2 separate regions of the Homo sapiens genome follow, and region 1 is linked to region 2. Evidence: fine-mapped expression QTL. A gene starts in region 2. The other region holds a variant in brackets. All regions are shown on one strand. Distances are from middle to middle. Region 1 overlaps TP73 (tumor protein p73). Region 2 holds the start of TP73 (tumor protein p73).

What was found.
Region 1: its variant is fine-mapped to the expression of TP73 in whole blood (TOPMed, PIP 0.97).

What each region holds. Positions count from the first base shown.
Region 1 is chr1:3,674,845-3,680,202 of GRCh38, reverse strand. The region is part of intron 1 of TP73 (tumor protein p73); the gene reads right to left. Among named protein-coding and RNA genes, the nearest start is that of TP73-AS3, 8.6 kb to the right of the region's middle. The variant CA/A (reference allele first, on the strand shown) is at 2,656.
Region 2 is chr1:3,649,942-3,655,291 of GRCh38, reverse strand. It overlaps TP73 (tumor protein p73), which reads right to left and starts at 2,776. Exons shown (of 14, transcript NM_005427.4): 1 at 2,651-2,776. WRAP73 (WD repeat containing, antisense to TP73) reads left to right here and starts at 5,189. Exons shown (of 12, transcript NM_017818.4): 1 at 5,189-5,350. The coding sequence starts at 5,293. RefSeq lists a silencer at 2,216-3,165 and an enhancer at 4,125-4,968.

The DNA.
Region 1 (5,358 bases), 25 kb before region 2:
CCTGAAAACCTCATGCTCAGGACACATGACCTCATCTGTCAGCCTGTGAGCTGTCCCCTCCCAAGGCTAAGGTGGGACAAAGACAGAGAGAGACAGAGACAGAGAGACAGAGAGAAACAAGGACAAAGAGAGACAGAGACATAGAGACAGGGATAGAGACAGGAAGAGAGAGACAGAGAGAGAGAGACAAGGACAAAGAAAGAGAAAGACAGGAAGAGAGACAGAGAGACAGGGACAAAGAGAGAGACAAAGAGAGACAGAAAGAGACAGGGAAAGAGATAGAGAGAGACAGGAAGAGAGACAGAGAGACGGAGAGAGACAAAGGCAGAGAGAGACAGGGACAAAGAGAGACAGAGAGATACAAGGACAAAGAGAGACAGAGACAGAGACAGAGAGACAGGGACAAAGAGAGACAAAACAGAGAGACAAGGACAAAGAGAGACGGAGAGAGACAAAGGCAGAGAGAGACAGGGACAAAGAGAGACGGAGAGAGACAAAGGCAGAGAGAGACAGGGACAAAGAGAGACAGAGAGATACAAGGACAAAGAGAGAGAGAGACAGAGACAGAGAGACAGGGACAAAGAGAGACAAAACAGAGAGACAAGGACAAAGAGAGACAGAGAGTGAGAGAGACAGAGACAGGGAGAGACAAGGACAAAGAGAGACAGAGAGATGGAGAGAGACAGAGACAGAGAGACAGGGAGAGAGACAGAGAGAGATGGAGAGAGACAGGGAGACAGAGACAGACAGAGACAGACAGAGAAACAGAGGGAAAGAGAGAGGGACAGGGAGACAGACAGCGTGGGAGCCGACGGCATCCCGCCGCACCCCTACTGGAGGTCCAGGGGTTCCGTGAACAGGTGTGCACGGGGCATCCCTCCGCGCAGGGCTCAGGGCTCACAGGAACTGGTCGGCAAAACATGATTTGTGATCTTATGCCTGGGACATGGGCGTTGGCTGTATTTTCAAGTCGGCATCCTGTGAACTCCCCCTGAAGCGACACCCTCTCTTCCCACTGAACCCTGAATGAGGAACAGCGACCCTTCTTGTCAGCGCGCCTCTGCCTGCCGGAGACCCAGCTTCCACATCCCCTGACCGGCACCCACTGTGCACTGCAGGACACCAGCTTGGCCTCTCATCCCTGCCTGGGCACAGGACAGAGGCCAGCGAGCGTGGTCGTGGGTCCCCGATCCCACCCGTCCGGCCCTCCAGGCTCACAGGACAGGCCACCACCAGGAGCATGTGGGGTGGGAAAGGGGCTTCCTCCACGCCAGGAGTTGGGTCCCCAAACATCCCCAGGCCTGTTTGCCTGAGATGTGGGCAGTGGGCCTCCAGGTGCAGGCGTGTGGACCAGCCGGAAGCCCTGGGCAGATGCATCTTCCAGGACACCCCTCCCCACAGTGGGGCTGGGGCAGGGCCCAGGAATCTGCCCCTTTAACAAGCCTCCAGGGGAGTCATGAAGAGCCTGGGACAGGCCCCCTGAGGAGGACACTGTCATGAGGGCCAGCCTTGCCACTGCTCGGGGCCCTGCTGCAGCCACCGGCCTCCCCCATGGGAATCGGGTTCCTCATTAGCCAAAACCAGGACCCGGAAACCTGCCCAGACTTAAAGCACACGGAGGAACTTGAACCGGAAGCCACGAGATGCCTGATTCCCAACTTCCTGGGAAAACGCCAACGCTGGTAGCATTGGTCCCAGGGCCCCACAGGAACACTGCTCACAGGCACAGGCGCCAGGCAGGGGCTCCCCCAACCGGCCTCACACACCTGAGCTGATGACTGGCTCCGCAGGCATCTGGGAGTACTGGGCATGAGGAACAGGAAGCTCTGTTGGGGGTGCAGGGACGCTGCGCTGGGGCAGGGGGAGTATGTGCCCTCTGCCCACAGCCGCCTTTCAGGCAAGGATCCCAGTGGCGAGAAAAATAAGTCAATTCTAATAAAATGGCCTTTCAATTAAATCCAATTTTCCCAACCATTTGCCTTTTAATTTGAAAATTCGTTCACAAGGGGATCACGGTTCTGGGACAAAACAGAAATTGCTTTTGAAACGTTGCCAATAGTTTTAAAAATCATGTGTATCAATGGGGAAAGGAGACCAATTTCATAAGACATCTTTAGGAAGTTTTATCAACATCATAAAATGCAAATACATTATTGGAAGTGTAGGTTTTTCTAAGAAGATTTAGTCTAGGAGGGATGGGCTGGGTGCAGTGGTTCATAACTGTAATCCCAACACTTTAGGAGGCCAAGGAGGGAGGATTACTTGAGCCCAAGGGCTTGAGACCAGCCTGGGCAACACAGGGAGACCTCAGCTCTCCAAAAACTTAAAAAAATATTAGCTGGGCATGAGGGCGTGATGGCATGTGCCTGCAGTCCAAACCACGCAGGGTGCTGAGGTGGGAGAATCACTTGAGCCCAGGGGCTCGAGGCTGCAGTGAGCCATGATTGCACCACTGCACTCCAGTCTGGGCAACAGAGCTAGACCACAACTCTAAAAAAAAAAAAAAAAAAAAGGGAAGGAAGGAAATGAAATAAATGAGTTCTCAGTTGTAACAGGGGCGTCCAGTGTGTATTACCACAGGTCTTGCAGTGGAAGGCTTTGTGTGGCCACAGCATTTGGGGGTGGTCATTGGGGAGCTGCTGGCCGGCACCCCCC[CA/A]GCCCTGGCACCATCAAGTCAGGGCACAGAGTTGCAAAGGACAGTTGTGCTGGGTGTTCCTGGTTACGCTGTAGCCAGGCTGTAGGCTGCTGGCACACCCAGGAAGCAGGGCACCTCGACCCTGCCCCAACTTCCATGAGGCCTCAGACAAGTCCCCTCCCTTTGCCAGGCTGGAAAGGTGACCAGCGTTCCAAGTCCTACAGTGCCCACAGCAGTGGGAGCAGGACAAAGACCAGCCACCGAGGGCCCTCCGGCAAACCCAGACCTCAGCCTGCTTGGATCCTCAACTCCAGGGGCCGCTGTACCAGCTGCACCACAGGGAGAGCCCCCACACACGTGTGACTCAGAACAGGAAAGGAACTCACACCAGCAATTAGGCCCCCACAGCTTCCCCGGGACCCACGGAGCACAGGTGGGCTGGGGAGGGGACTGTGTGGCCCAGAAAACCAGCCTGCCCAAGCTCCCTGGAGCTGAAAACAAGGCTCTCTGATGACTTCTCGGTTTGACTCAGGGCCTTCTGAGGTCTCAGCCTAGGGGTTCTCACCAGGGGCAGTTCCACCCCCAGAGGATATTCCCATGTGGGGACATTTTCCACGGGGTCAGAGGGTGCTGTGGAATCTAGTGTGCAAGACAGGGATGCTGCTTAGCACCCTACGTTGCTCAGGGCAGCTGCCCACAGCAGAACGCACGCCCAGCTGTCGGGGCCGTGGCGGAGAGGGGGTGCTGTGCCATGGCTCCGAGCTGAGGCTGGCCAGGCACTTTGCAGGGCCTCAGGCTCACACGCCAACCCTGCCCCAGTTCAGAGATGAGCAAGTGGAGGCCAGGAGGCCCAGTGGCTGGCCCAAAGCTACTGAGGGCTGAGGAGCTGGGACTCCAGCCAAGCCCAGGTCCTCTGATGGCCTGGCCGCACCCGAATGCTCCCCTCTGCCCTGTGGGGAGGAGTCCGCAGCCGGTGAGGGGCTCTCAGCCTCTCTCATCTCACCCTGCCCAACCCCTCTGGCCTCGTCTTCCATAGCTTCCCACGAAAGCCACAGCCCCCTGTCCCCCTGCCCTGTCCCAAGCATTCCCTCCCTGTCCCCAAGCATCCCCTCCCTGTCCCCTGTTCCTCTGTCCTCTCCCTGTCCCCCTGTCTCCCTGTCCCCCATAGGTTCCTTCCCTGTCCCCTTTCCCTTTGTCCCCTAGCCCCCCATCTTCTATCCCCTCCCTGTCTGCATCCCTCTGTCCCCTCCCCATCTCCTGTTTCTCTGTCCCCTCCCTGTCCCTTGTCCCCATAGATCCCTGCCCTATCCCCATGGGTCCCCTCCCTGTTCCCTGTCCCTTTGACCTCTCCTTCTCCCATCCTCTGTCCCCGTCCTAGCTCCTGTTTCTGTGTCCCCTCCCTGTCCCCGTCCTCCTGTCCCCTCCTTGTCCCCCATCCTCTGTCCCTCCCCGTCTCCTGTCCCTCTGTCCTCTCCCTATCTCTTGTCCCCATGGGTGCCCTCCTTGTCCCCTGTCCCCAGTCCCCACATGCCTGGCTATGTGCTCTCTGTGTTCAGCCTTTGTCTACCACCCCCTTCCTGCCCTCCCATCTCATCCCTATCTCTCCAGGCCAGGCCAGGACCCAGCCTCCTCTAGGAACCCCGTCTCCGGCTGACGCCCCATCCTCTCCCCTCACCACCTGACAGGAGGTGGGAGACCAGACATTTCCTTGGCCATGGGCCCACAGGTAAGGCCTCGTCAGTTCCCCAACCCCTTCCACCTCTGCCCAGGCCTGGGGCAGACAGGGCTCCACAACCACCTTTGATAAGCCAGGACACTCCACCCCGACTGAGCCCACTCTGGAAGAGGCACTCCCCATGGGGACACCCACTCCCACCTGCAGGGGCCCTGGCCGCAGGGCTGCTGTTACCTACCCACCCCTCGGTGGAGCTCTGAGACCGAGCCGTCCGCACTCAGCCTGGGCAGGAGACACAGGCCCCTCTGCCCCGTCTGGCCCAGCCATCCCGGACACTGGCTCTTAAGGGGGATCACAGGAGGGGTGCAGGGTGTCCTCCTCCATTCAGGGAGGAGGGAAAAGCCCCCAGGAACTCCACCCGCCCCGGGCCACCCCTAAAGCAAACATCTCAATGCACTTCTGATTCCGGTGGTTCCCAAACCACCAATGATTTTACCTGTTATTTCAGCAGATCAACGATTCCAATCTGAAGTGGCAAAGAAACCTGGGGCCATTGTGGGAGGAGACACCTGGGCCATTGTGGGAGGAGACACCTGGGCCATTGTGGGAGGAGACACCTGGGCCATTGTGGGAGGAGACACCTGGGCCATTGTGGGAGGAGACACCTGGGCCATTGTGGGAGGAGACACCTGGGCCATTGTGGGAGGAGACACCTGGGCCATTGTGGGAGGAGACACCTGGGCCATTGTGGGAGGAGACACCTGGGCCATTGTGGGAGGAGACACCTGGGCCATTGTGGGAGGAGACACCTGGGCCATTGTGGGAGGAGACACCTGGGCCATTGTGGGAGGAGACACCTGGGCCATTGTGGGAGGAGACACCTGGGCCATTGTGGGAGGAGACCGTCTCAATCCCCTTGTGCCCTTTTCCCAGGGACTCAGGCAGGTCCCAGGACCCAGAACCCAGAAGAGCCCCCGCCTGGGCAGAGGGGTCGGGCGGTCAGCGCACCAGAATGAAGCCAGGCAGGCTGGCCCTGTGTGAGACAGCG
Region 2 (5,350 bases):
CCTCAGCCTCCTGAGTAGCTGAGACTACAGGCACCAGACACCACCCCCGGCTAATTTTTGTATTTTTGGTGGGGACAAGATTTCACCATTTTGCCCAGGCTGGTCTTGAACTCCTGATCTCAAGTGATCCACCCACCTCGGCCTCCCAAAGGGCTGAGATTACAGGCGTGGGCCACGGCGCCTGGCCTTAAAGGATGTTTTGAAGACTTTTTCTGACTTTTTGCAAACACAGGGTTCACCGTGTACGCGATGTCACTTTGGTGTGCTCGGAATCTCAGGGTTAATACCGCCGCTGGGCAAGGGCAGGGCCTCGTCCGGGTTCTGGAGTGGGTGTGCGGCTCCTCTCTCGGCCCTCAGCCTCTTCTCTTCTCTCCACTTTAGCCGTGCCTTTCACACGTGCTCAGTGTTATCAATCCATTCTTGGACCTGGGTGGGGCATGCCCTATAAATAAATACTAAACCAGGCATCCTTGCCCCAGTGCATACTTCTGACAGATGCCATCAGCTTCCACCCACGCCTTGGGCAGATGCCTGCCTCACTGCCATCCCTCCTGCCCTGGAGATACCTACCAGATACTAAGGAGCCGGGTCTCTCCCCAGGGCTCCTGGCTCTCCCAGCTCTGGAACAGCACCTGGGACCCGAAGCCATCATGTGTGAGGACACTGAGTGGGTGCCAGGCACTCTCCCAAGCCCTTCGGACGGCACCTCACTGACTGTTCTCCAAGCCTCTGAGGCAGGAACTACTATTACCCGACTCTGCAGATGGGTAACCTGAGGCTCCAAGTGGTTAAGTGACTTGCTGGAGTAAATGGGGAAGAGGAGATTTGAACCCCAGCATTCTGACTTCCATACTACCCCATTAACCACTGTGCCAGACCAGCTTCTCCATGCGACTGGCCTTCGGGATTTGGAGACAGCTACTGTTCGCTGTAGCTTTCACGAGAAGGACTGCAAGGCAGGGCTCACATCCCGAGCCATTCTCTGGTGGCCGCCGCGCATAGACAAGCCCCGCTCAGGTCCGCCTTCCGTTCACCCCAGGCTACCTCTGATTGACAATAGGCAGCTGCCACACTGCAGCCTCTGACACCAACTTTTATCTTATTTCATCTTATTTTTTGAGACAGAGTCTTGCTCTGTTGCCCAGGCTGGAGTGCAGTGGCATGATATCAGCTCGCTGCAACCTCTCCATCCCAGGTTCAAGCAATTCTTGTGCCTCAGCCTCCCGAGTAGCTGGGAGTACAGGTGCCTGCCACCATGCCCAGCTAATTTTTGTATTTCAAGTAGAGACTGGGTTTCACCATGATGGCCAGGCTGGTCTCGAACTCCTGACCTCAGGTGATCCACCCACCTTGGCCTCCCAAAGGCTGTGAGGGATGACAGGCGTGAGCTACCGTGCCCAGCCAACTTTTTATCTTATTTTAAAAACTACATACGTAATGCATACATTCATATATGGCAACATTTCAAACACCGTGTCCTGTTCTTAATGAAATGCTTTTTAATCTTTCCCCGAATAAATCCAAAGAGGGGTGGCTCAGCGCTCAGTAAGTGCCAGAGGCCACGCGCTTTGTTTACTCCTCCCCCAGAGCTAAGGCTGAACAAATAAACAGCAATGACAGCAACAAAAAACAAAACAACAAAAACCAAAGCATTGTGTTAATGAGCCTGAGCCATTTCCAAATGTCCAGACAGTGAATAAACAGATGGCAGCATCTTTGGAAGCAAATGACCTCTGGTCAGAAGTTTGGGGTGCATTGCTTTTCCCTGCACCCTTGCTGGTTGAAGATCGTCTATCTGTCCCCTGTTTATGTAGCAGACGTGTGCATACTACATGGGCTTATCTCCTAGCGTCCAGGCCAAAATACAAGCTGAGCAAAGGTAATCATCGCTCCCCAAGTCCAAGCCCCGGGAAAGGCAGGGGCTGCAGGAGGAGGCGGCCCAGGAGCTAAGGGGGCGTGAGGTGTCTCCCTCCAGGCCGGCCCGGGCCATTTCTTCACGGGCTTTCTCTACCTGGGACCGCTCCGGAGACAGGCCAGGAGCCCTCGACAGACAAACTCAGAGCCACAGGGAGCTGTCCCTCGGGAAACCATCGAAACCGCTTAGTAACCAACTCCATGGGTCAAGGCCCCCGCCCAGATCCTTCTCCCTGTCCAGAGGGGGGCCTGGCCCTGGCTCCTCAGGGAAGCTGAGGCCTCGGGATTGGCACAGCCCTGCAGGTCGGAGGGAGCGCGCGGGCGGGGAGGAGCTTGCTGGCGATTTCCACCTGCACCCGCGCCCCGCACCCCGGCCTCTTCCCGGGGTTACCCTCCCAACGGCCCTCGGAGCCCGGGGTGGAGAGGGGACAGCAGGAGGAGGGCCCTCCCGGAACCCCTGCGGGGCTGTCTTTGGCGCCAAAGGCGGCCGGCGCTGAGGGCAGGACCCGCGTCTCCTCGCAGGCTAGACTCTGGCCGCTCCAGCCTCTCGCGAGCGCCAAGTCCCAGGGGCCGATCCAACTCCGAGGGAGCCCCTGTGTCGCCTTGTCCCAGCTCGTCCCCGATCGCTCTCCCCTCACCTCCCAGCTTCGGAGCTGCGAGCCCAGGTGCCTGCCCAGCGCTGCGCTCCAGCCCCCGCCCGCGGAGCCGAACCGCCCCCCGGCCCTGGGCCTCCTACCTGCAGCCGTCGCAGCCCCGGGCATCGGCGTCCGTCCCGGCTGGCCTGGCGCGGGCCCCGGTTTCGCTGCGTCCCCTTCGCGGGCGCGCGAGCCTCCGGGCGGGTGCGCGGGCGGGGAGGCAGGGCGGGCTGCCCGGCCCCTAGGCGGGTTATATGGGCGCGGGGAGGGGAGGCGCCGCGGGGAGTAGGCGGCCGCGGGCGTTAGCGCCTTTTTAGCCCGGCGCGCGGGAAGGCAGCGCGGGCCACCGAGTCGCGGCGGGGCCAAGGTCTCCTCCCGGCGCTCCGCCTCTCCAGCTGGCCGCGTCCAAGTCGGGGTCCCGGGCGCGCTCTGCCCCGCCTCCTTCCCGCCGCCTTTTGGCGCGCGTCGCTCCTGCAGAGCCCGGCGAGGCCGCCCACGCAGGGCCGAAGCAGGTCCGGCGCCAGGGCCCCTCCCGCGGGCCAGACCCGACCGCGATCTTCGGCAGAGCTGGGGACGCCGGTGCCGACTCTGTGCCCGACGCCTGCGTTTCCCCCGGACTCCCTGCTGTCCCCCAGACGGCCCATCTTTCCTGACACCCGGGTCTCTCCTGGCCGCCGCCACTAGCGCTGGGCTCCTCGGCGCGCGGGGCGCTTGGAATCCAAGGGGCAGGGGATGTGGCCGGCGGGGAACAGGGGTGAGGGGCGGGGAACAGGGGTGAGGGGCGCCGCCCCAGGCCCAGGAGGAGGGGAACGGCTGCTTTCCGCCAAGCAGGGCTTGCCACCCACTTCTCCTGTGGAGCCACGGTCCCGCCCGGCAGAGGATCCCGCGGAGAGCCTCTGGGGGCTGCTCTCCCAACCCCAGCCGGAGTTTGGGCCCCACGTCCTTCCAGGGGTCACCCAGGACGCGAACACTCCCGGGCGGCGGCCAGCACCCTGCTCCCTCCCCCGGCCGCCGCCTGTGGGCTCGGGCTCTGGATCCCGTTCGGTGTTTGGAAGGAGCTCGCGGGCGTCGGTGCGCTTGGAGTTGTTCTCTGCGCGCACCAGACCTGCGCTAGGTCAGGCCGAAGCTCTCTACCGGCCAGCGACACCCGCCGCCCCGCCCGCCTGCTCCTCCTAGGCCATCGGGGCTTCCAGGGCCCTCGACCACGTACACCAGGCCCTGGCTAGGGGACCCGACATGCTGGGCGAGTTCCGAGCGGCTCTCAGTGGCGGCGCTGCTTATGGTCTGATGCTTATGGGGCCCGTGATCTGGCTCCGAACCGATGTCCTCTGCCCATGGTGACCCCCACGTCTTGGAAAGTCGCGTCAGTGAAGCCCGTGGCTTCGCGAGCGAGCCGGGCTGGCGCAGACTGGGTTCTCTGGCCGCAGCGGGTCCGCGCCTGACGGGGAGGGTCCGGCTGACTCGCACATCTTCATGGCTCACCCACTGTTTGCTGGGCGCACGGGGTGGGGACCCAAAGACGAATCCCATGCAGAGGTTTGGGTCTAGTTTTGGCAACAGAAAAGGCCGGCACCGCCGGAGTAGGACGCGCGCGCACCACCATCCATTCGGCCGGGGAGGTTGGGGCGTCCGCGGGGAGCAGACCCGAGGCTGGGCGCCCGGAGGTACGAGCAGGACCCTGGCCGGCTCTCAGCTCCCAGAACCCAGGGCCAGGCGGGGATGTCAGGGTCTGCGCGATCTGGGGGGCCCTAGAGGCGCCGGCGGGGCCTGGCGCGGACTACTAGCGGCCTGCGGGAGCCAGGGGTGGAGGGGGCCGCTGTCTAGGGAAGAGGACCGGGGTCCGGAGTGGGGGTGAGAACGAGGCACGCCCCTGAGCCTGCGAAACCTGCGGACCGAGCGCCCGCGCAGGAGCTCGCTCCCTCTGGGCCCCCAGGTCCCAGACCCGCACGATTCTTCGCCCGGTGCCAGCCCAGATGCGCGCGGGTGATGAACGGGCGGTGGCCGCGATCCACGCGCTCGCTCTGCCCAGTCAGCGGCAAATTCGTTCTCTCCTTGATCTCAGTGGCACTGGAGCGTGAGGCAAGGGCCAGGCGGCAGGTAGAGGGGTCGGACTCAGCAAAAGCAAACAAAACCCCAAGCAAACGAAATAAATACTTATACATTACATACACGATATAATATATGTGCGACAGACACCGTATTACTTATTAAAGATATATTTGTAGGTAAACATATATTTACATGTAAACATACATTTACATATAAATATAAATATATATATATGCATGTGTACACACACGCAGACACACAGGTCGCTCAATTAAATTTGAATTTCAGACTAGCGAGTAATTTTTCCGTATTAGCATGTCCCGTGCAATATTTGGGAACATACTTATAACTAGATTTGTTGTGAATCTGAAATTCAAATTTTACTGTGCTTTCTACATTTTTATCAGCAGCCCTAGCTGGAGGTGCTCAAAGGCCTCCCGGCCTTTGAGGTAAGGTTCTCGGGTCGGAAATCCCTGGTCGGAAGAAACGTGGGCGTTTCCTTTAAAGCCCTGCGGCACAAGAACTACAAGCCCCACAATGCCGCGCGGAAGCCGGCGGCGCTGATAGGCTGCAGTTCACTTCCGCCTTCTGACTTCCGGCCTCGGAGGCCGGCGTCGGCTGTTGCAGCCTGCTGCGCGCCCAGGGGTCCCGCGGGTTTTCGGGCGCAGGGTGGCGCCCGCGGCAGGCGGCGGCCATGAACTTCTCCGAGGTATTCAAGCTCTCCAGCTTACTCTGCAAGTTCTCCCCGGACG